Linked DNA regions of Homo sapiens. The protein of the gene in region 5 purifies or fractionates together with the protein of the main gene of each other region. This does not show direct contact. Each region holds a gene or a part of one and is shown on either strand. Other genes may lie near its edges. The genes, in order: NPTN, SLMAP, SEC62, RANBP2, SLC35F3, GNPTAB and SNX25.

Evidence for each region.
Region 1: the proteins of SLC35F3 (region 5) and NPTN purify together in Homo sapiens (affinity purification with mass spectrometry; one large-scale study listed by BioGRID and IntAct). This does not show direct contact.
Region 2: the proteins of SLC35F3 (region 5) and SLMAP purify together in Homo sapiens (affinity purification with mass spectrometry; one large-scale study listed by BioGRID and IntAct). This does not show direct contact.
Region 3: the proteins of SLC35F3 (region 5) and SEC62 purify together in Homo sapiens (affinity purification with mass spectrometry; one large-scale study listed by BioGRID and IntAct). This does not show direct contact.
Region 4: the proteins of SLC35F3 (region 5) and RANBP2 purify together in Homo sapiens (affinity purification with mass spectrometry; one large-scale study listed by BioGRID and IntAct). This does not show direct contact.
Region 6: the proteins of SLC35F3 (region 5) and GNPTAB purify together in Homo sapiens (affinity purification with mass spectrometry; one large-scale study listed by BioGRID and IntAct). This does not show direct contact.
Region 7: the proteins of SLC35F3 (region 5) and SNX25 purify together in Homo sapiens (affinity purification with mass spectrometry; one large-scale study listed by BioGRID and IntAct). This does not show direct contact.

Annotation. Positions count from the first base shown.
Region 1 is NC_000015.10:73,623,390-73,626,889, forward strand, and holds part of NPTN (neuroplastin isoform b precursor), read right to left. Parts: intron 1-3,500. UniProt on the Homo sapiens protein: Probable homophilic and heterophilic cell adhesion molecule involved in long term potentiation at hippocampal excitatory synapses through activation of p38MAPK. May also regulate neurite outgrowth by activating the FGFR1 signaling pathway.
Region 2 is NC_000003.12:57,909,809-57,913,308, reverse strand, and holds part of SLMAP (sarcolemmal membrane-associated protein), read right to left. Parts: intron 1,423-3,500; exon of another isoform or gene 1,388-1,422; intron 1,171-1,387; coding exon of another isoform or gene 1,118-1,170; exon of another isoform or gene 929-1,117; coding exon 608-928; intron 152-607; coding exon 34-151; coding exon of another isoform or gene 1-33. UniProt on the Homo sapiens protein: Associates with the striatin-interacting phosphatase and kinase (STRIPAK) core complex, forming the extended (SIKE1:SLMAP)STRIPAK complex.
Region 3 is NC_000003.12:169,994,307-169,997,806, reverse strand, and holds part of SEC62 (translocation protein SEC62), read right to left. Parts: 3' UTR 1-3,500. UniProt on the Homo sapiens protein: Mediates post-translational transport of precursor polypeptides across endoplasmic reticulum (ER). Proposed to act as a targeting receptor for small presecretory proteins containing short and apolar signal peptides.
Region 4 is NC_000002.12:108,764,482-108,767,981, reverse strand, and holds part of RANBP2 (E3 SUMO-protein ligase RanBP2), read right to left. Parts: coding exon 1-3,500. UniProt on the Homo sapiens protein: E3 SUMO-protein ligase which facilitates SUMO1 and SUMO2 conjugation by UBE2I. Involved in transport factor (Ran-GTP, karyopherin)-mediated protein import via the F-G repeat-containing domain which acts as a docking site for substrates.
Region 5 is NC_000001.11:234,322,844-234,325,011, reverse strand, and holds the end of SLC35F3 (solute carrier family 35 member F3), read right to left. Parts: intron 2,005-2,168; coding exon 1,769-2,004; 3' UTR 501-1,768; downstream 1-500. UniProt on the Homo sapiens protein: Mediates thiamine transport.
Region 6 is NC_000012.12:101,747,980-101,750,959, reverse strand, and holds part of GNPTAB (N-acetylglucosamine-1-phosphotransferase subunits alpha/beta precursor), read left to right. Parts: intron 1-1,768; coding exon 1,769-1,859; intron 1,860-2,980. UniProt on the Homo sapiens protein: Catalyzes the formation of mannose 6-phosphate (M6P) markers on high mannose type oligosaccharides in the Golgi apparatus.
Region 7 is NC_000004.12:185,216,098-185,219,597, reverse strand, and holds part of SNX25 (sorting nexin-25), read right to left. Parts: intron 1-3,500. UniProt on the Homo sapiens protein: May be involved in several stages of intracellular trafficking.

The DNA.
Region 1 (3,500 bases), on a different chromosome or scaffold from region 5:
AAAAACTTCTGGCTGGCAGGGGGGCTGTGGCTCATGCCTGTAATCCCAGCACTTTGGGAGGCACAGGCAGGAGGATCACTTTAGTCCAGGAGTTTGAGACCAGCCTGGGCAACATAGGGAGACCTCATCTCCACAAAAAATTCAAAAATTAGCCAGGCATGGAGGTATGCGCCTGTGGTCCCAGCTACTTGGAAAGCTGAGGCAGGAGGATCACCTGAGCCTGGAAGGTTGATGCTGCAGTGAGTAATGATCACGCCACTGCATTCCAGCCTAGGCAACAGAGTGAGACCCTGTTTCAAAACAAAACAAACAACAGAAAAACACACTAACTTTTGAAAAGTCCATTTCATTTCATATTCATTTCCATATTTTTCTCTCATTGAGCTTCTAAACAAGCACAGTACTATGTAAGAAAGAGATCATTTCTGTTTTTGAGTACCCTCTCAACCAGCTCTTTGTCCTACTTATAATGGTTCTGACGATGAGTGCAAATAACTCTATTCTTCCGCTAGTTTCATTAAAATCATCTTAATACTAAACCTATGCTTTCTTCCCTGTGCTCTAGGCCATTGCTCTTTGATACAGCCCATCCATCTTTGGAGACTGCCTAATTCCCTTACTTCATTTACACTGCTACCTTGAAAGTATTAATAGATAATCACATCCCCCTAGTGCTCCCTGTTCCTAAGTTTAGCTCCTTCAGGCTTTTCTCCTAAATCTTAAGCTACCATCAACATAGATTCTATGTCTCTTCCAAAATGTGGTTAGAAAGTATTCTTATTTGGAGTTCAATCCTAGTAGAAAACAGTAATGCTGTTAGGTTAGCACCATACTTTTGATACGTGATCACTATGTTATTTGTGTAAGGGTAATTCAATGACAGTTCACTGCAAGCTATTTGAAACCTCTTTATACTTGCTTTTTTCCAGGTAGCAGTTTCCTGGTTTGCATTAAGGCCATTTATTTCATCTCCCTTGATGCACGATTTGAGATTCAGCATTAATGAATATAATTTCAATGCTGGAGCTCCTTGTGCTATTTTTTTCCAGTTGTTCGGCAATGATTCCCAAACCTGCTAAACTCGTATAATCAAAAAAATCCCAAGTTAAATTTAACACATTCCTTCAATCTATGAATTTAGAAGTTTTTCACAGATAGTTGCCAACAAAGGAGGACATCTTGTTGCCTTTTTTTCCTCCAGGAAGCAGTGTCTAAAAACTAGGAAATAATCCCACTACTCTAGGATCTTAAACATGAACGGCAGATGATTCTTTAGTGATGGTTCTGCTTACCCTCTCTCTCTCTTCCCTTGGCCAGTATTCAAGTCAATCTGTACTCAACAGAAATGTGCCTCAGACTACAGCAACCAAGTAAAGCATTTGGCTTAGAATAAACATTAGTACTCCCAGCCCTGCAAACTCAAAGGCTCAGGAATAAGGAACACAAGGTCTAATTTAAAAGGAAGGTCAACTGAATATACTGGAAAAGTTATGTCTTGATTATATTCAAATTACTGTGGCTTCCCCTTTTTCTAAAGTTCTAAAAGGAAAAAAAATCGCTATATATAATGGCTAATGTATAAATCCAAAATGTTTTATTTTCTTTACTCATAATGACTAATAACAGTATATGCTGATATTACTGATAAATGTCTAGTGAAAATCCTTGTGTTAACAAAAATCATAATTATTCCAGACTAACATGGCATGTAAAAAATAAACAAAAGCCCCAAACTACTCCATACCTGAAAATGCTGTTTTTCAAACTGAGTTTCACGGCCCATGAATTGTGAATTCAATTTAGAAGGTCACTATGGTTCTCTTAACTACCTCACACAGATTAATAATAGGTAATGTTTCACAAGATATTACATATTTGTGTAATTTTGTTATAAATTTCTATTAGTCAAAAACTACTTCTCTATCTGGGTCACAGACAAAAAAGTTTGAAAGCCTTTTTCTAAAGAGCTTTTTTTTTTTGAGACGGAGTCTGGCCCTGTCACCCAGGCTGGAGTGCAGTGGCATGTTCTCGGCTCCCGGGTTCACGCCATTCTCCTGCCTCAGCCCCGAGTAGCTGGGACTACAGGTGCCGGCGACCACCCCTGGCTGATTTTTTGTATTTTTGGTAGAGATGGGGTTTCACCGTGTTAGCCAGGATGGTCTCGATCTCCTGACCTCGTGATCCGCCCACCGCAGCCTCCCAAAGTGCTGGGATTACAGGAGTGAGCCACCGCGTCCGGCCAAGAGCTTTATTTTTCAAGTAATTTCAACATGATTACATGTGAACCAAATATTATCTTTTACTCATATAAACTAACCCCTACTGACTACATTTCAGGTCCTAGAAAATTCTAGTTTGCAATGTAATTTTTAGGTTATTTTTAAATTAATAAGTAGCAAGGGTGTAGCTGAAACTAGATGATGAATACACAGGGGTTTATTCATTACTTAATCTATTTTTGTACATGTTTGAAATTCTAAAGATCTAAAAGAAAAAAAGGAAAAGAAATGGACCTAACAGATAACAAAGTAGTACCATGAATGTTTACAACTTGAGACCTTTAAACACAATGTTTCTAAGGAATAACAATCAAGGAACTTGCTAGGATTTAATTCAGTTAACACTTGGGGTTGCCTTCTTCGACTATAATGGACGGATTTCCAGGTCTTAAAAAATGCATAAGGGACTGCAGAAACTAACTCATATATAGAAAACAAACTTTCTCGAAAGATAACATAAAAATACAAATAGTTAAGTGTGTTTCATTGTCTCTTTATTAGTCAACCACTTTCAGCCAACAGAAAGATCATAAAATACCTACCTACCTGGCAGGAATATTCACTTCTTTATTCACACTGGCAATTTTCCCAGCAAGTTTAATATAAGATCTCTGCATAACAGACACGGTTCTGCCTCCCTTGAAACAAGAACTGCAAGGGTTGTCTGAAGTAGATTTAGAGGCATTTAGATTTCAAAACAGTGCATGCCTCAAAGTTAATTTTCATTATATTCAAAAGTAAGTTTCTAAAAACTTTTAAACAGAAAGTGTTATCATCTCTGAGCCTTTAACCTATTGGAGACAGTATCTAAGCTATAAGGGCAAGATATTTAGTAATTTTTAGAACTGAAAGGAAATTTAGACATCATCTAGTCCAATGGTTTCCAAATCCTACCATCAGGAAGAAAAGAATCTCAAAGGCATAACAATTTATATATGCAAAACAAACTCTTACTTGTGTGTTTTCCTGTATCTTCCTGCACATGAAATACTATGCCTTATTAGTATTCTATCAGGAAAGGATGTGACATTTCGTTATGCATTTTATATTTAATCACATTTAGTATGTGAGTATCCATTTAGATATGATTAAAACTATTGGTACGATTTGGGACTTAATGCTTTCTAATTATAGAAACTTACATAATATATCCAACCCTAATACTTTCAGAGTGATTTCATACCATCTCATTTATATTTCACTGTCTAGTAAATTTGAAGT
Region 2 (3,500 bases), on a different chromosome or scaffold from region 5:
TTTATATCTGAAAAACAGAGAGTTCTTGCATACTTGTGCAATTCTTTTTCTTGCCGTTGCAGTTCTGATGATAGCAAAACATTTTCCCTTTTTAGAGAATGGCATTCGGTTTCCAATGCATTCCATTCCTTTCTCAACTTCTCTAGTTCACCTAAAATAGTCCCAAAACATATTTGTTAATACAGAAATATAACTTCCATAATACTTCAAAGGATAAAGGAAAAGATTTCAGAGGAGAACATACTTTTTGCCCCCTTAAAAGCAAGTAGATTTTACATGGTTAATTATATGATTCCTGTTACTTTGCATGTATACCTCAAGGACTGCTATCAGCTTGTACTTGAACAATAGTATTTTTTTCCACTTCACTTTTATAAGACAAGCAATTTTTAACAATTTTAAAATAAAATATAAAACCGTAAAAAAATATAAATTTAAGTAGAACTTGCAGACCTGAAAATACATTTTTAGCTCCGATTTAAAAACATTGGTTTATACAACTGATAGCTAACAAAGAAAAAAAAAGCCTGCATGTTTCTTTTTTAAACAAGTTAAGAAGTTATCATTGTCAAAAGTTAACAGCTTTATGTAAAATACATTTATTCACCTTGCAACCTTGTTGCTTCTTCTCTCTGCTGGTCCTCACACTGTTGACATCTAAGCTGAAAACTGTTTTGCAGACTTGTGATTTCTTTCTCATATTCAGACGCTGCTTTCCGCCACCGCTCAAGCTCAGCTCTCACCTTCTTAAGCTCTTCTTGTAAAGAAGCAATGTCAGTGTCCCGCTCAGAGGCAACCTTTGCTGCTGCTTGATGAAGGAGCAAAATTTCATCTCGGGCACTAAGCAATTCATCTCTAGTACTTGTGATTTCACTGTCCTTCTCCTCCCGGAGATTCTCAGTATCGATGTGTAACCTCTGCAATTGGGCTGCAAAAGTATATCCATCATTTTCTTGGCCCATTAGAATAAAAGAATAATCCATACAGGATTGTAGCTAATGCATAACCTGGGTTGTCAGAGCTGTTGCTTTTGATTAAAGTGTATAAACAATCCACGTTTGATGCAGAAAGCGTCAAAATACAGATAGCAAAGAGGAAAAAAAAACCAAAGTGATCTTCATCTCCCCAACACACAGAAAATTACTTCTGATATTCCTTCTGGATTTTTTCCTATGCATTTATAAACATGTAAAAACAAACATTAAATAGGGAGTGATCACAATAAATGCAGTGTTCCCTATCCTTCTGTTGATGAAACTCTTTCAACAAAAAAATAGTTATAGTATATATAACTTATTTGCCCAACCCTTTATTTTTGACATTTTAGGCTGTTCAGTGTTTAAACACTATATACAATCCTTTTTTTTTTTTTTTTTTTTTTTTTTAGGGTGAATCCTATGTGTAGAATTGCTTGGTCAAATGGTAAGCAATAAAAGCAATAAACAGTTGACGCCCTTGATTCGTTTTTCTGTTCAAATGTCAATTCTTTAAAGAGGCCTTTTCTGATGACTCATGTGAAAAACAGCTCACTGTCATTCTCTGGCTCTTTACTCTGCTTTATTTTCCTTTGAAGTCCTTATTGGACATCATATTATCTATTAATTTGCTTATTGTTTATCTTTTCTACTGGACTGTACACCTCATGTGTGTAGGGCATTTGTTTTGCTCACAGCTGTCAGGTATTGGGGATACCCCAATATCTAACACAGTAAACAATCAAGAATTATTGGTTGAATTAATGAGTTAATAAAATTAATACTGCCTCATTGAAGGGTTATATAGATTTTTAAAAATACCTGGTTTTGTGCTCATGACCCAAACTGGAAACAATTTGTATAAAATCAAACTTGGCGCAGAACAAGAAAATTAATATTGGTTACCATATTATAAGGAAATTGTAGATTTAAAAAGTTCCAAAGGAAAATAATTAATTACAAGAGGATTTAGGGATGGGAGAAAGGGAGGTTGCTACATAAGTAAACATTAAGATATTAGACTTTCTAAGTTTGTAGGAAGGACTGAGAGGTAACAAGTTTGGAATCTGAAAGGGCACAATGGCCAGAGAAGATGATCATGATTTGTTGATACAGTCGTGAAATACACATGCTGGCACCAGGGGGCACTCAATAATGCCTGGGCAAGACAGGTTTTAAAAAAAAGGTAGCACTATGTCACAGAACCTTTAGGAAAAATTGCCCCTACACAGTCTACGATGAAAATAGAGATCCAAATCAGATTTATGTAAATTAATGGATAATGACATTAAACTACAATAGGAGTTTTAAGAGCTTTCAATTTAAAAACACATATGACATACCCTAGAAATTCTAATCTGACCAAAATAAAATTCTAATTTTAAATAACTCAAATGTTCCACTCAAAAAATAGGACCCCAAAGACTAGTTTTTCTCTGCGATATTTTTGGGCAAGTATCTTGGGCCTCGTACAATGACTCTCCCTTCTCTTCTGAATAGTGATTACTTGTCTATTTAATTTCTTCCCCACCTATCTCTCAAGCTAAAATTTTAAAACAACATTGGCTCCTTCTTTGACAAGAAGGCAAATTAATTTTACTTTAGGAATTTTACAATGGCATGGGAAAGGAAGACCTCTCCTGGGGTATCATATAATTTCCTCATAATATACCAGGAGCTCAAGCTTGAAGTAAACATTCGACAGGCAGGGGTCTTTCTGGAAATTTCTGTAATAACCCTGTAATAGCCCAGACAAAGAAATAGCAAAATGGTGATAAGAAGAACAGCCATTATCAACGAAAATCAGTGCAGAGACTACTATCCTATTCCACGTGATATATAATTTTTCTTGAGGCCAGGTGCAGTGGCTCATGCCTGTAATCTCTGCACTTTGGGAGGCCAAGGTGGGTGGATCACGAGGTCAGGAGTTTGAGACCAGCCTGGCCAATATAGTGAAACCCCATCTCTGCTAAAAATACAAAAATTAGCTGGGCATGGTGGCATGCACCTGTAGTCCCAGCTACTTGGGAGGCTCCAGAATCACTTGAACTCGGGAGACGGAGGTTGTAGTGAGCCAAGATCACCACTGCACTCCAGCCTGGGCAACAGAGCAAGACTATGTCTCAAAAAAACAAGCAAAAAAATATTTTCTTGCAATACAAGTGTGTTCTGAGCATTAGATGGCAATATATCTACACCAGCCATCAATATATACATATACCAGCAAGCTCAAAGTGCTGACGCAGAGTAGCTCAAACAGATTTCCTATCCAAAGGCCCTCTGTAGGAACTCACGACATAACTCAGAAAGTGACAGTCTTACCAACTCCAAATCTTCACCTCTGCTTTTTCCATTCTAAGTGTCTAATACGAGAGTACTGGACAATCTTCCCTTGAATTTTCTTTAAAAAAAAAAAAAAAATAGGCCAGGCGCAGTGGCTCACACCTGTAATCCCAGCACTTTGGGAGGCCAAGATTGGTGGATCACCTGAGGTTGGGAGTTTGAGATCAGCCTGACCAACATGGA
Region 3 (3,500 bases), on a different chromosome or scaffold from region 5:
CCCATGCATTTCCTTTTCTGCATTTAAAAACATTATTCTGGCCAGGCATGGTGGCTCATGCCTGTAATCCCAGCACTTTGGGAGGCCGAGGCAGGTGGATCACCTGATGTCAGGAGTTCAAGATCAGTCTCGCCAACACGGTGAAACCCTGTCTCTACTAAAAAATACAAAAATTAGCTGGGTGTGGTGGCATGTGCCTGTAATCCCAGCTACTTGGGAGGCTGAGGCAGGAGGATCACTTGAACCTCAGGAGGCGGAGGTTGCAGTGAGCTGAGATTTCGCCACTGCACTCCAGCCTGGGTGACAGAGTGAGACTCCATCTCAAACAAACAAACAAACAAAAAAAACCCATTATTCTGAGGAGTCCATGACACAAAAAAGTTAAAGTGATCTAGGAAATCATTGAAAATGAAATAAGACCAAAGTGTGATGATATGACCCCCTTGAAATTTAACTTATCTTTCCCTCTTTCTGTCATGCTAAGAAGAGATCATAGGCCTTTTGGACAATCCTAAAACTATAAACCTCAGAAAATATGTCCTCTCTCAGACTGAAATTTCGTCTGATTGGAAAAGCCATGCAATTAAAGTATCAAAGGATCTCTGTGCTAGGTTGGACAAATGAAATAAACGCATTGGGACCTACTCAGAAACTCACAACTAACTGCTTTAGCCATTGGTTTAAGGGCTTGCCAAAGAAGGCAAATTTAAATTAATCTCCTTGTGTAGTTATCTGCATGACATTCACTAGAACAGGATTTTAGTTATCAAAATGCTTACAACATGCTGTATAAAGTTATGAGATCTTTTCTAATGTTTGGTGATAAGGATCTGACAAAGAGGTCAATTCCTCATTGGAATTTTTGTTCCCTAGGAATTTCTCCTTGGTATTGGTCTTGATTCCAATAAGAAACAGATGGTTCTTTACATGAAGATATTATGAGGAGATAAGTATAGGTATAGGCTACCCAAAGAGGAAGCACAGTAGCTTCTGCAACTCCAGGCTAGTAGCAGCAGAACTGACATCATCCTTGGCCAGAAAGGAAGAGTGCAGGGACTGGCAACCTGGAAAGCAGGGAAGGAGTTTGGGAGAAGTGACCTTTGGCTGCTAAGGCAGCCCCCCAACCCCAGGAGAAGAGCCGAGAATAGGCACCCTACCATCCTCTGATCTCTGGCCAGGACACTCCTTGGCCAAACCCACTCAGAAGCCAGGAGGCATAGGAGCCCACTGCTGTGGTCCATTCGGGTCAGCTTTGTGGGCAAGAGCAGAGTGGAGCTGGAGGGGAAAACAAGAGATATCCAGCACATGTAGCAATTTGCTGCCGTAGCACTTAACACACTATTTAATGGTGCAAGAGAATTGTATTTTTATTCATGGTTGTGCCTAGTAAAATTCTGGTACATGGTAAGTGCTCAGTATTACTGAGTGAATGAGCAAAGACCTGAAATACTGTGGAAACAGTAAAAGCAAATTACCACACAATTAGGAGGAATTATTTTCAGACATAGGATATTTAAAACATCACTCAAATACTGGAGCATGATTCAGCAATAAATTCTATTCCATAAACCAGGTAGATAAATGTCACAGCTTTAAAATATAGTTAAGTACAGTTGATCCTCGTTATTCATGGATTCCGTATTTGTGAATTTGCCTAACCTAAAATTTTGTGGTACAGCAAAAAACTTGCTGTACACATATTCTGAGCTGAGGTTGAACAAGGCCATGTTCCAGCTTTCATACTATAAACGTGTCCTTTTTACGCTAATGCCATGGTTTTTGCATTTCTGTTCTTTTTTTGATTTCACTGTTTAAAATGGCCCCCAAGCATAGTGCTAAGGGCAAAAAGCTGTTCCTAAGGGTAAAAAGGCTGTTGTGTGCCTTATGAAGCTTATGTGTCAGATAAGCTTCATTCAGGCATGAGTTACAGTGTTGTTGGTCATGACTTCAATGTTAATGAATCGATTATATTAAATAAGGTGTCTTTACAACAGAAATTTACATGTTGACTGCTTGATGAAAATGTGACCAGTGGCTTGCAGAAATCTAGCCTTGTATTTCCCCTAGGTTCTATATTTGCTAATTCAGTGTTCGCAGTGACTTTATAGAACGTAACTACCTTGAATAATGAGAATCAACCATACTTGCTGTTTTCCAGTTCCTAATAGATTTAAAAAAAAAATTCAATTTACAAAAGACACAAGATGACTTTTCTTGTCAGCAGCTAACTGATCCTCATGATGTAAAACCAGAAAGAGGGGGGAAACACCAAAATTCATCACCACTGCATAATTTCAATGTGATATATTAAAATTTATTACTTCCTGAATAGTATTCAACTAAATCTATATTATTTCAATTAAAGTTACCTAGGCCATATGGTTTGAAAATTGAAAAATCCAGTAAGAGGGAAAAGGAAAAATACCTTATTTAATACATTGACTTTAAGAACAATCACATATGCATTATTCTTACTATCTGAACTTAGCCTCTGGTAAATTCAATCCTGCTTAGTTAGGCCAATTGATACCCTCTACAATAAGCCCTACATGATCAAAAAGCTTCATGCTTTCTACTTACAGCAGCATAGCAAATCTGAAGTTCTTAAAAAAAAATCGCCATTCTATTAACAATTATAAACGATTTTCCATGCTCTGGTACAAGAATATTTAATGTTAGCCAAGAAAGATAGCCATCTATTCCACTGAGGATTGTAATAGAGGCAGCCTTTTGATTTTTATATTTGTTTAAAGTACACAACTTGAATAGTAAAATAGAAACTGAGCTGAAATTTCTAATTCACTTTCTAACCATAGTAAGAATGATATTTCCCCCCAGGGATCACCAAATATTTATAAAAATTTGTACTAACATTCTGTAAGAATCCACACACATCAGTAAGAAGCTGACCTTCCTGTTGGCCATGCTCCAAATGTCTTTAAGACTAGACAAATTACATATATTATAAAAAATTTCAGGATGAATATTGAGTGCCTGGGTATTATCACAGTAATAGTAAAGGTTAATGAAATAATTTTTATTTCTGAAAAACACCATGTTTATACCCCAAAATAGGTATCAATGTTACTGGTGATAAACTCAGAAGTGATCATTATATATATGCTTACTGTGGAAATGAAGTAGTAGAGCTCTGCAAATGGGACGGGAAAATACCCAGGCACTTCATCAATGAACATTTATTTGCTAAAAAGAAACTATTAAAGTGATTGCAGCCTTGACATAGTTGCATTAACATCAAATAGCCACATTTATGTCCACTTACAGGGACTACTATAAAGAAGCAATCAAGCCAAGTTTAATAAAATGTGTCGATACAGAAAACATATTTTTCACAATTAGAAAAATTTAACATCTTTAATTCAAACACTTAGATGAGAAACAGCCTAAAGCAAAGACTGACATACACTACCTATTTCAACCACAAAGCAAGATGCTCTCACTGTGACTGAAGAAAAATCATTTAATATTCATTATTAGTT
Region 4 (3,500 bases), on a different chromosome or scaffold from region 5:
TCTGTCCTCTCTCTTGTGGTTTCTTCTAATACAGCTACAGCAATTTTGCCACATGGTGACTCTCTGGGAGTGCTTGACCGAGAAACATGAGGTGTTATCAAAGAATCTTTTTCCTGGGCTGTTTTTGCTTCATCAAAAATTTTCTTAAACGAGTCTGCAACATCCTGTAGTTTAAAACGAACAGCTAAATGCTCTACTTTTCTTTCTCCATCTGCAAAATCACATGCAGTCCACAACCATACTCTTTCTGTCCCTTTCATATTTTGCAAAGTCATGTCTGGAGTTATTCTGTGATTGGCACAAAGTTTTAATACTTGGTCCCTTCTCATCACTATACGAACTTGCTTATTATCATAATTCTGTAAAATCTTTATATCACCAATGCCCCTTTCTTTCCATTGACCAACATCTTTATCATATCTGTAGAGTTTTGCCCTGTGACTAAAAACAACTTGTTCATTTTCCTCACCACTGGATACTTCAACTAGATCAGGTAAAGGAACAACAGGTTCAAAGTACTGTCCATCTCTCTCTTCTTCTTGAGTAACATCAGATTCTTCATCAGTGCCAACTGAAGTCCCACTCTGATTCAACTTGGCAGGAGACTTAGATGGACTCAAAGCAGATTTAAAACTGAAGTTAAATCCTGTTGTTGACTCACCAAAACGGAAAAGATTTTTTCTCACAGGGCTACTTGCCAATGGAGAAGCATGTACTGAGCTACTACTGACACTATCATCCAAAGCATCTTCCCTTAAATCATAGTTATCCCATTCTAATGTGGGCCCAGTGTTTTCAGGATTGGGTTTTATTGTTGTGTCTGAGGCACCGGCCGCACCTGTACCTGAACCCTTATTTTCTTCCTCAGTGACTTTTGTTTGATCATTTGTCAAAAATGTTTTGAAATCTTTCAGTCCACTCTTCATTTCTTCAGCTCTCTGTATTAACTTGGCAGCTCTGCCAGTATCTACAAGTTTATGGGGAGTTTGAAGTGGTATGTCTAACAGAAGCCGCTGGCATTCCTCAAATTTCTGCTTGAATTCTTCAGCCAGCTCTGGTGTTTTAAATTTTGCTGCCAACTGCTCTAGTTTGGCATCACCATCAGAGAAATCACTGGCTAACCACATCCATGCTCTATCTGATCCAGAGAGAGGCTTCAGGTTCATCGTAGTCGTTATCCAATGATTAGCACACACTTTTAGTACTTGTTCTCTTCGCATCAGCATTCTTAGTTTGCCATTGACCTCGTTTTTGAGAATTTTTAAGTTCCCCAAGCCCCTTTCTTTCCACTGACTTACCTCAGCATCAAATCTAAATAGTTTTACCCGCTGTGAATACAGAACTTTTTCATCTTCTTCTCCTGTTACAAGTTCTACTTTTTCGGGCATTTGAACTACTGGTTCAAAATGGATGTCATCGCTGTCCTCAGTCTTATAGGCATCATCATCTTTCTCAAAGTCACCGGAAGTGTTTGCTTTATTGGCCATTTTACCGTATTGTGATGAGAATAATTTTTCTCCAGCACCTGAAAATCCCTTGAAATTGGGGTCTTTTTTGCCAAACTGAAATCCTTCTCCTGAAGTTGATTTTGCAAGATCTGCAAATGTAAAAGTGCTACTTGTTTGGCCAAAAATCACACCACGGCCATTCTTCTGGCCACTAATATCCTGAGCCTGGAAGCCAGTACCATTTTCAAGAGGCTTTTCACTTTTCTTTTCTTGATTTCCTGGTTCCGAAATGCCAAATTTAAATCCATCAGCAGACACAGGGATGGAAAATCCTTCTTTGGTTGACTTAAATTCTGTATTAGAAGAACCCTGAAACATAAATGAAGGTGAATTTTCTTGATCCACATGCCCAAATTTGAATCCTTGCTCTGTATTGCCAAACTTAGAAGCTTTTTCTGAGAAATTACTTTTAAATCCTGTTCCCACCTGACTTCCAGAAGAGTCATGCAACTTCATTTCTGAGCCCAGTGTGAAAGCTGAAGGAGCTTCTGCAATAGGTTTATGAGTTGGTTTAGAGGCATCACAAGCCACACATTTTAAGGAAGAACTCTCATTTTGTACACAGCAAACACTACAATCCCACTGTCCTTTCCTGATGAACATTCCTTCAAATCCACTCTTTGGAGCCTTGCTTATCTCCGAAGAGGCAGGTGTTGAAATTGCAGTTGTTTGATTTTGTTTACTTGGACACTGACAAGCAATACATTTGGTAGCACTGGCTTCATTTCTTACTAAGCACACACTGCAATCCCACTGTCCTTCCTTCTTAGTGAACATTCCCTCAAATCCGCTCTTTGGAGCCTTGCTTGTCTCTGAAGAGGCAGGTGTTGAAACTGCAGAAGTAGTTTGATTTTGTTTACCTGGATTCTGACAAGCAATACATTTGGTAGCACTGGCTTCATTTCTTACTAAGCACACACTGCAATCCCACTGTCCCTCCTTCTTAGTGAACATTCCCTCAAATCCGCTCTTTGGAGCCTTGCTTGTCTCTGAAGAGGCAGGTGTTGAAACTGCAGAAGTAGTTTGATTTTGTTTACCTGGATTCTGACAAGCAATACATTTGGTAGCACTGGCTTCATTTCTTACTAAGCACACACTGCAATCCCACTGTCCCTCCTTCTTAGTGAACATTCCCTCAAATCCGCTCTTTGGAGCCTTGCTTGTCTCTGAAGTACCAAACTTAAAAGAGGCAGGAGCTGGAACAGAAGTAGATGGACTTGGTTTATCCGGATTCTGACAAGCAACACATCTTGTAGCATTTGCTTCATTTCGCACTAAGCATGAACTGCAATCCCACTGTCCTTCCTTCTTAGCAAACATGTCTTCAAATCCACTTTTTAGAGTTTTACTTGTCTCTGAAGTACCAAACTTAAAAGAGGCAGGTGTTGGAATAGAAGTAGCAGGTAGACTCTGTTTTCTCGGATTCTGACAAGCAGCACATTTTGTAGAGCTCCCCTCATTTTGTACCAAACATGCACTGCAATCCCACTGTCCTTCCTTTGTAGAAAAAACAGATCTGAAATCACTGTTAATAGGTTTAGGAAGATCTCCCTGGCCAAATTTAAATGAAGCTTGATGAACAAATGAAGATCCACTTTTGTTAGCAGATTTTGTATTCTGACACGCAATGCACCTAGATACAGTAGGTTCATTTCTTACTAAACAAATACTACAATCCCAGTGACCTTCTTTCTTTGGAGTCACCAATGCAAATCGATCTTGAACATTCTCTGGGCTGGTTTTAGGAGTAAAAACAGTTTCAGCTAATGGTGGGCCAACGAGCTCTTTATTGCTTGGGTTTAGATTTTGGCATGATACACATTTCTTAGCAGTTGAAGCATTCTTTAATGAGCAGCTGTTACAATGCCACCAAGACCCTTCTTTCTTTGCAACCTGAAATTCAAAATTCAGGTTTCCAGCATCAGATTTGCAAATATCCTTGTTATCATGACTTGTGGGTTCTTTTACAATTCTGACAGCCTGATTTGACGC
Region 5 (2,168 bases):
GAGCAATCAAATTATTGAAAATGCCAGCATTAAGTTAGGATGCCCAAGGCAGGCAGGCGGCTGTGGGGGCTGAGCTGGAAGACTGGGTAGATTTATGGACTGGGGCTGCCGCTCTAGGTGGCACTTAGAGACCAGTGTAAACTGAGCTGCGGATCCCGTTCAGAAGAAAAAGTGAGAAGGAAGCCACAGGCAGGGCTGAGCGGAGGGCAGGTGCCTTGAGGGAGAGGGAGAGGAACAGGGGAAAAGTGGAGGAGGGAGAGGCTGCCCCAGGACTTAGAGCTTCTGTGAGGCTTTGGGGATGCTTCTGCATTTCACTTTTGCAAAAGTCAATTCTATCGATATTACAGTCTCCTTCCCTTGAGACAGATGGGCTGGCTTACCCACCCTGAAGGTTCTTGGGGGCAAGTGCAATTGAGGAAAAGCCAGAATGTGGTGAGGACTGCTTCAGGACTGGTGCAGTGGGAAAGTAACAGAATGGCCATGGAGACAGCACTGAACGCTTCTTTTTCAAATATTTTATTAATCTGTTTGGCCAAACAGGTAATGGAAACTGAGAATAATAATTTGCTAAAAAGTTCAGGTCATGAATGCCCCTTTCCCCCAGGAAACAGAAGACTCCATGGTTACAGAATGCACCATTGGGTTATGACAACGTTTCAAAATAATGTTTCCATTTCATATGTAACAATGTAAACTTCAAAAATAGTAAACTCTAACCCCTGACCCTCTTTACAGATCTATCACAGATAGAATTTTCTGGCAGACCTAAATTGTGTAAGTAAACAGCCTGGTGCTTAAAAGTTTCATAAAAAGGTTTACAGATTTCAGTAAATAATTTTTCAGTCTTGGTCAGGAAGTAAAAGCAGCCAGCAATTCCCCTCCTGCACAATGTACCTTATATGGGTATTGTACACCGCGGGCCACGCTCTGTATACACTGGCCATCAGCTCTGTCATTTTTTTGTACACAGACATACACATATATAGAGAGTTTTATTTGTTTCTAAAGATTTTTACATCTAAATTATAAGACGGCGCCAGTGACGTATCACGTCACCTCGCTTCACATAGGTAAAGACGAAAATTCTGTAGAAGGCACTGTGATTTCTCTTGCATGATCTTACACAGACACGTGAGAGCAGGCCAGCCGGGGCTTGGACTTATCTTGTCCTTCCTGGTACCTGGCACAGACCTGTCCTCTGACAGTTTTTGATGTTCATCATCCATTTCTGCCTTGCCTCTTCACATCCCAGACATCCTTCCCTCCCTCCTTCCATCCCTCCATCCATCCATCCAAATAAATTGACAGTTATCTTTTGGTTCATTGAAATTCCTTAAAATTAAGAGTACAGCTCTGGTATAAAACAAAATATGACCTACCATAGCTGAAAAATAATCACAGTGTGCAATGTCATGTTCAGTTGCTAAGATTCAAAACACTTGCTAAGATTCAAAACACTTGCCCTGATGGCTGGCTTGTCAAGAACGTCAGCCATCCAAAACGATCTACGCAGGGAACTTTTAAACCCACTTTACATTCGTTGGAAAAGCACTGAGAGGTTCTTCTTTTCTCTTTTGTATTGAATTGGTACCCTTAAGTGGAAGGTCTGATGTGGAAAAGTGCAAGCAAATTGGACATGCCAATAAATACCATAGAACTTACCGCAGATGACCAAAACTGTACAGGTATGTACACCTTACCCAACTGAGGTTCCTCCCGGCAGGAATAGACCTCCCAGTCATTACCACCGAGTTCTAGAGGAGTGGTGTTAGCGGGCGAAGGAAGGGCGGGCTCTTCTGTTCTTGCTCTGAGGTCCTGAGCTCAGGTCGGCAGCGCCCTCTGCAGGCTCCTCCTTCTTCCTCACTTTGAGTCGGGTGAGCAGCTTGATCAACCAGACATCCCACTCCTCTGGCAGGAGCAGGAGGAGAAAACCCAGGCCGATGATGATGATGGCGATGACCCGGACCCCATTGAAGACGATCTGACTGGTGTAGTGATCAATCACTGTGGGAGACAGAGCATGGAGGTTTCTCAGCTGCAGGGTTGGGGGCATGTCCCTGGAGAGTGGGCAGGGCCTGGGGGCACCCTCCTCTGTCTGGCAGTGTTGTGGTCTTCCCTGGACCACAGGATTCTCCTCAGTATGATTTTGTTCCAGGTGGGCTGGGGTT
Region 6 (2,980 bases), on a different chromosome or scaffold from region 5:
TATATAAGCATTTCACTAGTCCTAGAAACAGTCAGTCAGGTGTGAACCAAGGATACAGCCTAGGCAATAAAGAAAAAGCAATAGACGAACTGGGAGACACTTTAAAAGGGAAATTGGCAGACCCTGGCACTAGAACTCCTCGGTATCTTGGAGTTGGGCAAATGAGACAATTAGGATGAATATTGCTGCTATCTTTATGTTTTTATTTTCATAAGGAGAAGTTATTACTGAATCATGGGTCTTGTCTCCCAGAAATGGCAAGGAATGGCTTCTCACCGTTTTCACTTTCCCTTAACTCAGAGGAAAAAGATCTTTAGGTGGTTCTAAGTGTTAACTCCCCAAATTCAATTTGTGACTAAATTTACCCTCAAGGGTCCATTTGAATAAGAAAGAAGTGGGCTTAAAAGTAATTTGAGAGGACCTTGATTTCTGTGCTGTACAAATGGTGTGAATCAGGTGTGGGTGCTCTTGCAGTCATTCCCCTGCCCTGGAGGTTGCTTGCTCCTCATCCTGCTTAGTTCTGCATTGTCTCTCACTGCACTGACACTAGACATTAGTTGACAGAGCTGGTTATGATCCTATTAACAGAAGTGGGAAATACAGGGGGAAGAGCTGTGTGTGGGCGAGTGCCGTTTTGGATGTGTGACTTGAGGTAGAGACGCCCAAACAGTGGAAAATGAGAATCTGTAACTCAGCACAGAGGCCAGAGTTTGGTAGTTACTAGCATATCTTCCAAACCTATGGTAAGCATTTTTATTTAATCTTCGTAACCAATTGTTCATTATTTCCAAATTACAGATGAGGAAATGGCTGTACTGCCTCTTTTTATCCTCAGTATTCTCTTGGCTCCAGGTCCAGTTGATTCTACCTCAGGAATGTCTCTTCTGTTGCTTATTTCTTTTCATTGTCACTGCTTCCTTTCATGCCTGGACTAAAACTAAACTGCCTGCCTTCCTTGTTTGTCCATCCTTCAAATGGCCAACATGTTTACCCTGATTATGTCACACATACCCCCACCTGTCTGTTTCATCCACTTTCCCACTAGAGTGTTCTGTCCAGACCCCACGGTGTGGTTTTGCAAAGCAGCTGCAGTTCATACCCTCTCGCCTTCACCTGGCTTAGTTCCCCCCATGCTGCCGCATGGATTCACTCCACTCAGTCCTGTAGGGCCCAGCTGGCCACCGTGCCACTCTACTGCTCCTTCTCTTTCTCATCCATATGCTTCCTGTCCCCTTCAAGGCTTACAGGAAATGCCACCATCTCTGTGGCACTGTCCTCATTTCTCTAAGTTTTTCACATGACTTTGCTTTTGATAATGCATATTTCTGTGTCTTATGTGATGGCAAGTCATCAGTCAGCATGTCAGCAACGCCTCAGTTTTCTAAACACTTAAAAGCAGGGACTTCATCTTGTTCATCTCTCCATATACGCAGGAAGTATTTATCAAGAAACTGAGTGAATAAATAAGTATGAGTGAATAAAAATGAATGAAAGAGTGGTTTTGTTTAAGTGCCAGAAGTAATTTTCTTTTGAAGTCCTCTCTCCTGCCTGGATAACTTCACTAATTCAAGTATAATATTTACTATGACATAATAAAAAATCTGAACTCGTGTTGGAAATGTATATTGTGTGAGCATTTTAGAATTGCAAGACAATGTTTTTGTGTTTCCCAACATTGTTTTTATAGAACTAGTATATAAATAATGCTTAACTAATGGTAGTGAAACCATATACAGAAGTACATAGTTGCTTTCTTCTCTCTGCACAGGAGGGCTTATCGAGACAAATTGAAGTTTTGGACCCATTGTGTACTAGCAACATTGATTATGTTTACTATATTCTCATTTTTTGCTGAGCAGGTAAGTTTTATATATTTTATGTGGGTATTAAATGGTATTTCTTGGTATACTAGCATCTGAATGTTTTAGAAAATGATACACATTTACAATCAAAATTTTAACTTCTCTTATTGTCTTATAGCTCATATGTGAATATGTTAAATATGTTTCACAATATTCAGGCAGCAAATATAACAGTCTTTTATTCATTTCTCTTCTAAATCCATTACCAGTATTCTTTTTATCTGGAACTCAACAGATTAACTTGTAGATATCAGGCTAAAACCAAGTAGCTCTAAGTATTTATAACCAAAAAACCATCTAGAATCCTTATCTAATGTTAATTTTCTATGGGTCTCCAATTTTCTTCCTCTCTTTCACGCTTCCTTGAGTGAGCACAGTGTCTTCAGACATCCCACGGTTCCGTTGTGTTGTCCCACTCACACCAGTAGCTCCCATTTATCTTTCTTTCAATCGCTAGGAGTTCTCCCTCCTCTCTCCTCCTTCCTCCTCTCCTTGTCAGCCCCTCTACACCTGGGCTTTCCTCTGCATGCATGTACACACGCAGCCTCCTTGAGGTGAGTGTCCAGAAGTCGGAGGGAGATTTGTGAGGTAAAGAGAAAGGGATAAGAGAGTCCTCATTAGGCTATTCACATATCAAATACTCTGAAGAAAAAGGATTGAAGGAGGGGAATGGGCATCTTTACCAACCTGACTTGGGTGTGGCAAGTGACTTGGCCTCTGCCTCCAATCAAGGTGACTATTGAGTGGAGCTTTTCTAGCTGTCACTCAAATGAAACGTACACCAAGTTGACTTATACCAAGAAGGACAAGCACCTAAGTACTGAGAGCTTCAGGATAAATGAATGGGCTTCTTGCTGTAAATGGAAGGAAATTCAGGAAACAGAGACTGGGCAGGTGAACAGGACAGCAACTTAACCTTCATCTGCTTTCCAGGGATTGTACATCTTGTTCTTGATGTCTGTTACCATTGTTCCTGGCAGGTAAAAGTCTTATGAAAAATCTCAGAAAGGCTGTACCTGCTTTTAGAACAGGGTCCAGTGAGAAACCTTTGAGTCTGCTGTGCTGACCTAGGATGGGGAAGGAAAGGAGCCCTGACTCAAAGGAGCAGCCATTAATGG
Region 7 (3,500 bases), on a different chromosome or scaffold from region 5:
AAGAAAACATTTTTTCTTTTTTCTTTTTTTGTTTTTTTGAGATGGAGTCTTGCTCTGTCGTCCCAGCCTGGAGTGCAGTGGCACAATCTTGGCTCACTGCAACCTCCGCCTCCAGGGTTCAAGCGATTCTCCTGCCTCAGCCTCCTGAGTAGCTGGGACTACAGGCGCCCACCACCACACCTGGCTAATTTTTTGTATTTTTAGTAGAGACAGGGTTTCACCATGTTAGTCAGGATGGTCTTGATCTCCTGACCTTGTGATCCGCCTGCCTCAGCCTCCCAAAGTTCTGAGATTACAGGTGTGAGCCACTGCACCCAGCCCAAAAACATTTTTTAAAAACATGCCTAAGTGAGAGAAACAGGGCTAGCCTGCCAGCTTCTATAAAGCATACATGTGGCCTTGGCTTAGATAAACCCCGAAAGACGGACCAAGGCCCTCCAGACATTCAGCTCTGGAGGACTGAGACAGGAGTACCCCAACAGGGAACGTCTTTCTCACAGACTGGCAGTGGCGGCATAGCACAGGGACCTCTCTCCAGTGCTTTGCAAGCACCAGGAATGGAAGAATGTAAGTTGAGATTATCCCCAAATACATGGGACACTGTCTGTGGGCTCCCAGAAATGCTGATGGGGTGGCAGAGCAAGAAGGTAGGAGTACTGCAAGAGGATGAGGTTCTGTATGAGATCAGAACCTCATTAAAAAAAACTTTAAAATTAGTTTAATTTATGTAAACTCACCCGTATATACAGGTGGGTGAGAACTACAGAAATTCAGGTTACTGTAGCAATGAGTATTTGTAAAATATTTATCTAATTTTCCAAGAGGTATATTCTACACTAAAATAGGAAGTCTATTGAATAGATCCTAGTAGCCTAATAAACAAGTTATGTGTCTTATCCTAAGGATGCACAATTCCTTGCTCCCCTCTTTGCTTCAGAAGCATTTTACTTGGAGTTACCATATTCATTTTTCTTTACATCCAGCTTGTGGCTACTCATACCTAGAAACCCTGGGCTGACAAACATACCAGGACTGGCAAGTGCCTAGAGTGGCTGCTGAGTGCTGGCTAGCTGCAGGGGCAAAGCAGGCATACCTCACACACCTAGCTGCCTTCTCCCAAAGCAGCACCTGGGCTGAGAGGCCCACCAACATACATGCAAACCTGCTGGGATTTCTGGAAAGCTCCACCATACTTACAAAAACTACAGAAGCAGGCCAGGAGTGGTGGCTCATGCCTGTAATCCCAGAACTTTCTGGGGCCAAGGGGCACGGATCGCCTGAGGTCAGGAGTTCGAGACCAGCCTGGCCAACATGGCAAAACCCCGTCTCTACTAAAAATACAAAAATTAGCCAGGCTTGATGGCGGGCGCCTGTAATCCCAGCTACTTGGGAGGCTGAGGCAGGAGAATCACTTGAACCCGGGAGGCAGAGGTTGCAGTGAGCCAGGATTGTGCCACTGCACTCCAGCCTGGGTGACAGAGCCAGACTCCGCCTCAAAAAACTATAGAAGCACACACTCCTAGACTAAAGCAGGGTGTGACTTAGACCTAAATCCCGGCCCTTAGGGTATCCAGGAGTGCCCCTGCGAAGGGCTGCCTACCTACCTGTCATCCCCATTCAACCAAGCAACCTAGGTGGCATAGGTGACCTACAGCAGTGAAGGATAAAAATACAGGTTCTGAGTTTGCAATCTTTTTCCTTCAAAAGTACAGTTGCAATGTTAAAAATGCTGGCAAGGTGGTATGCAATTATTTCAGTCCTAACAGCCTTCCACAGACACTGTGCATTTTCTGTGTCCTGAACGCTCGGCACCAAACTTGCTGCGTCACCTTTTTAGCACAACCACGTGTACCATTCTGACTATAAAGAATCCTACATTTTAAGGAATCTAGGGCACTTCCTATCCCCAAAATGATATGGTTGGGAAACGAAGCCTAAGATATTTTTAGGAAGGCAACAGTCAATTACCATTACCAATGTGACATCGTATGCTTCAAAAACAAAAGCAGCTGAAGATTCAAGAGTGAGAAATAAATCCCCTGGGAATGACCAGAATTAAGAAGGTGCCAAGTAGAACATTCAACTTGGAAGACTTTCCTAGGATACATCTGCTGCTATATATTGTGGGATCCTTTGGTTTGGGGTTGAATTTATTGTTTAAAAGGAATGTTAGGACCCTCCTGAGAATATTCTTGAACCTATTGTAATGATAAATAATGAGAATTGTATCAAAGAAAAGTCTCACTCACTTTTGAATGTACTGTCTGTTGTCTCCATTCACACAGCTTCATTAACTCTCACTTTTTATCATTGCAGCTACACAGTATTTCTCTTTTTTTTTTCCCAAGACACAGTCTCACTCTATCACCCAGGCTGGAGTGCAGTGGTGCGACCTTGGCTCGGCCTCCCAAAGTGCTGGGATTACAGGCGTGAGCCACTGCACTCGGCCAGTATTTCTCCTTTTAAGTCCACCCCAATCACATATCCATTCAACGTTTCAAAGCCCAGCTCTGATGCTATCACTCCTGGGCTCAGAAAATGCCAACAGTGACCATGCCTGAAGACTAAAATTCAGTTCTACTCCACGGCATTTCCACAACCTGGCCAACACTACCTTTCTAATCCTAGCTCCTATGAGTCATCTCATATACTCACTGGTAAGTCAAATCTCAAACGGTACATGTACTCTGGACCCATTTTGTTGGTTTTTAAAACTTAGAAGAACACATATTGCTTCCTTTAGATGATTTTGCTAAATTCAAATACACACTTTTGTCGGCCGGGCGAGGTGGCTCACAGCTGTAATCCCAGCACTTTGGGAGGCCAAGGCGGGTGGATCATCTGAGGTCAGGAGTTCAAGATCAGCCTGGCTAACATGGCGAAACCCCATCTCTACTAAAAATTACAAAAAGTAGCCGGGCGTGGTGGCGGGCGCCTATCATCCCAGTGACTCGGGAGGCTGAGGCAGGAGAATCGCTTGAACCCAGGAAACAGAAGTTACAGTGAGCTGAGATTGTGCCACTGCACTCCAGCCTGGGCAACAAGAGCAACACTCCATCTCAAAAAAAAAAAAAAAAAAAAAAACCAAATACACACTTTTGTCATTTCCTGGGTACACTTGATTAGCATTGTTTTTTGTCCCAGGTTTAATCATGCATTGTACCTTCACACTTTGAAGTTATCACTATTCATATACAACTTCATCTTATGCTGACTGATCTTAATAGTTCCATCACGACAGATTATACAGAGAAAAACTTTCCTTTATGTGTAATCACTGTTCACATACCAATATTATATGTATCAAAAACTTCTCCTTTTGAATACATGTGTGTATGTGCCTATATGTATGTCAAATATATCTGGAATAAACAGAAACTGTTAATAGTGGCTGCCTAGAGGGAAGATGTTTTTTCACTGTATACCTTTCTGTACACTTTTTTTAAAATCATATGATTGTGCAACCTATGGAAAAAACTAAATTAAAAAATAATGAATTT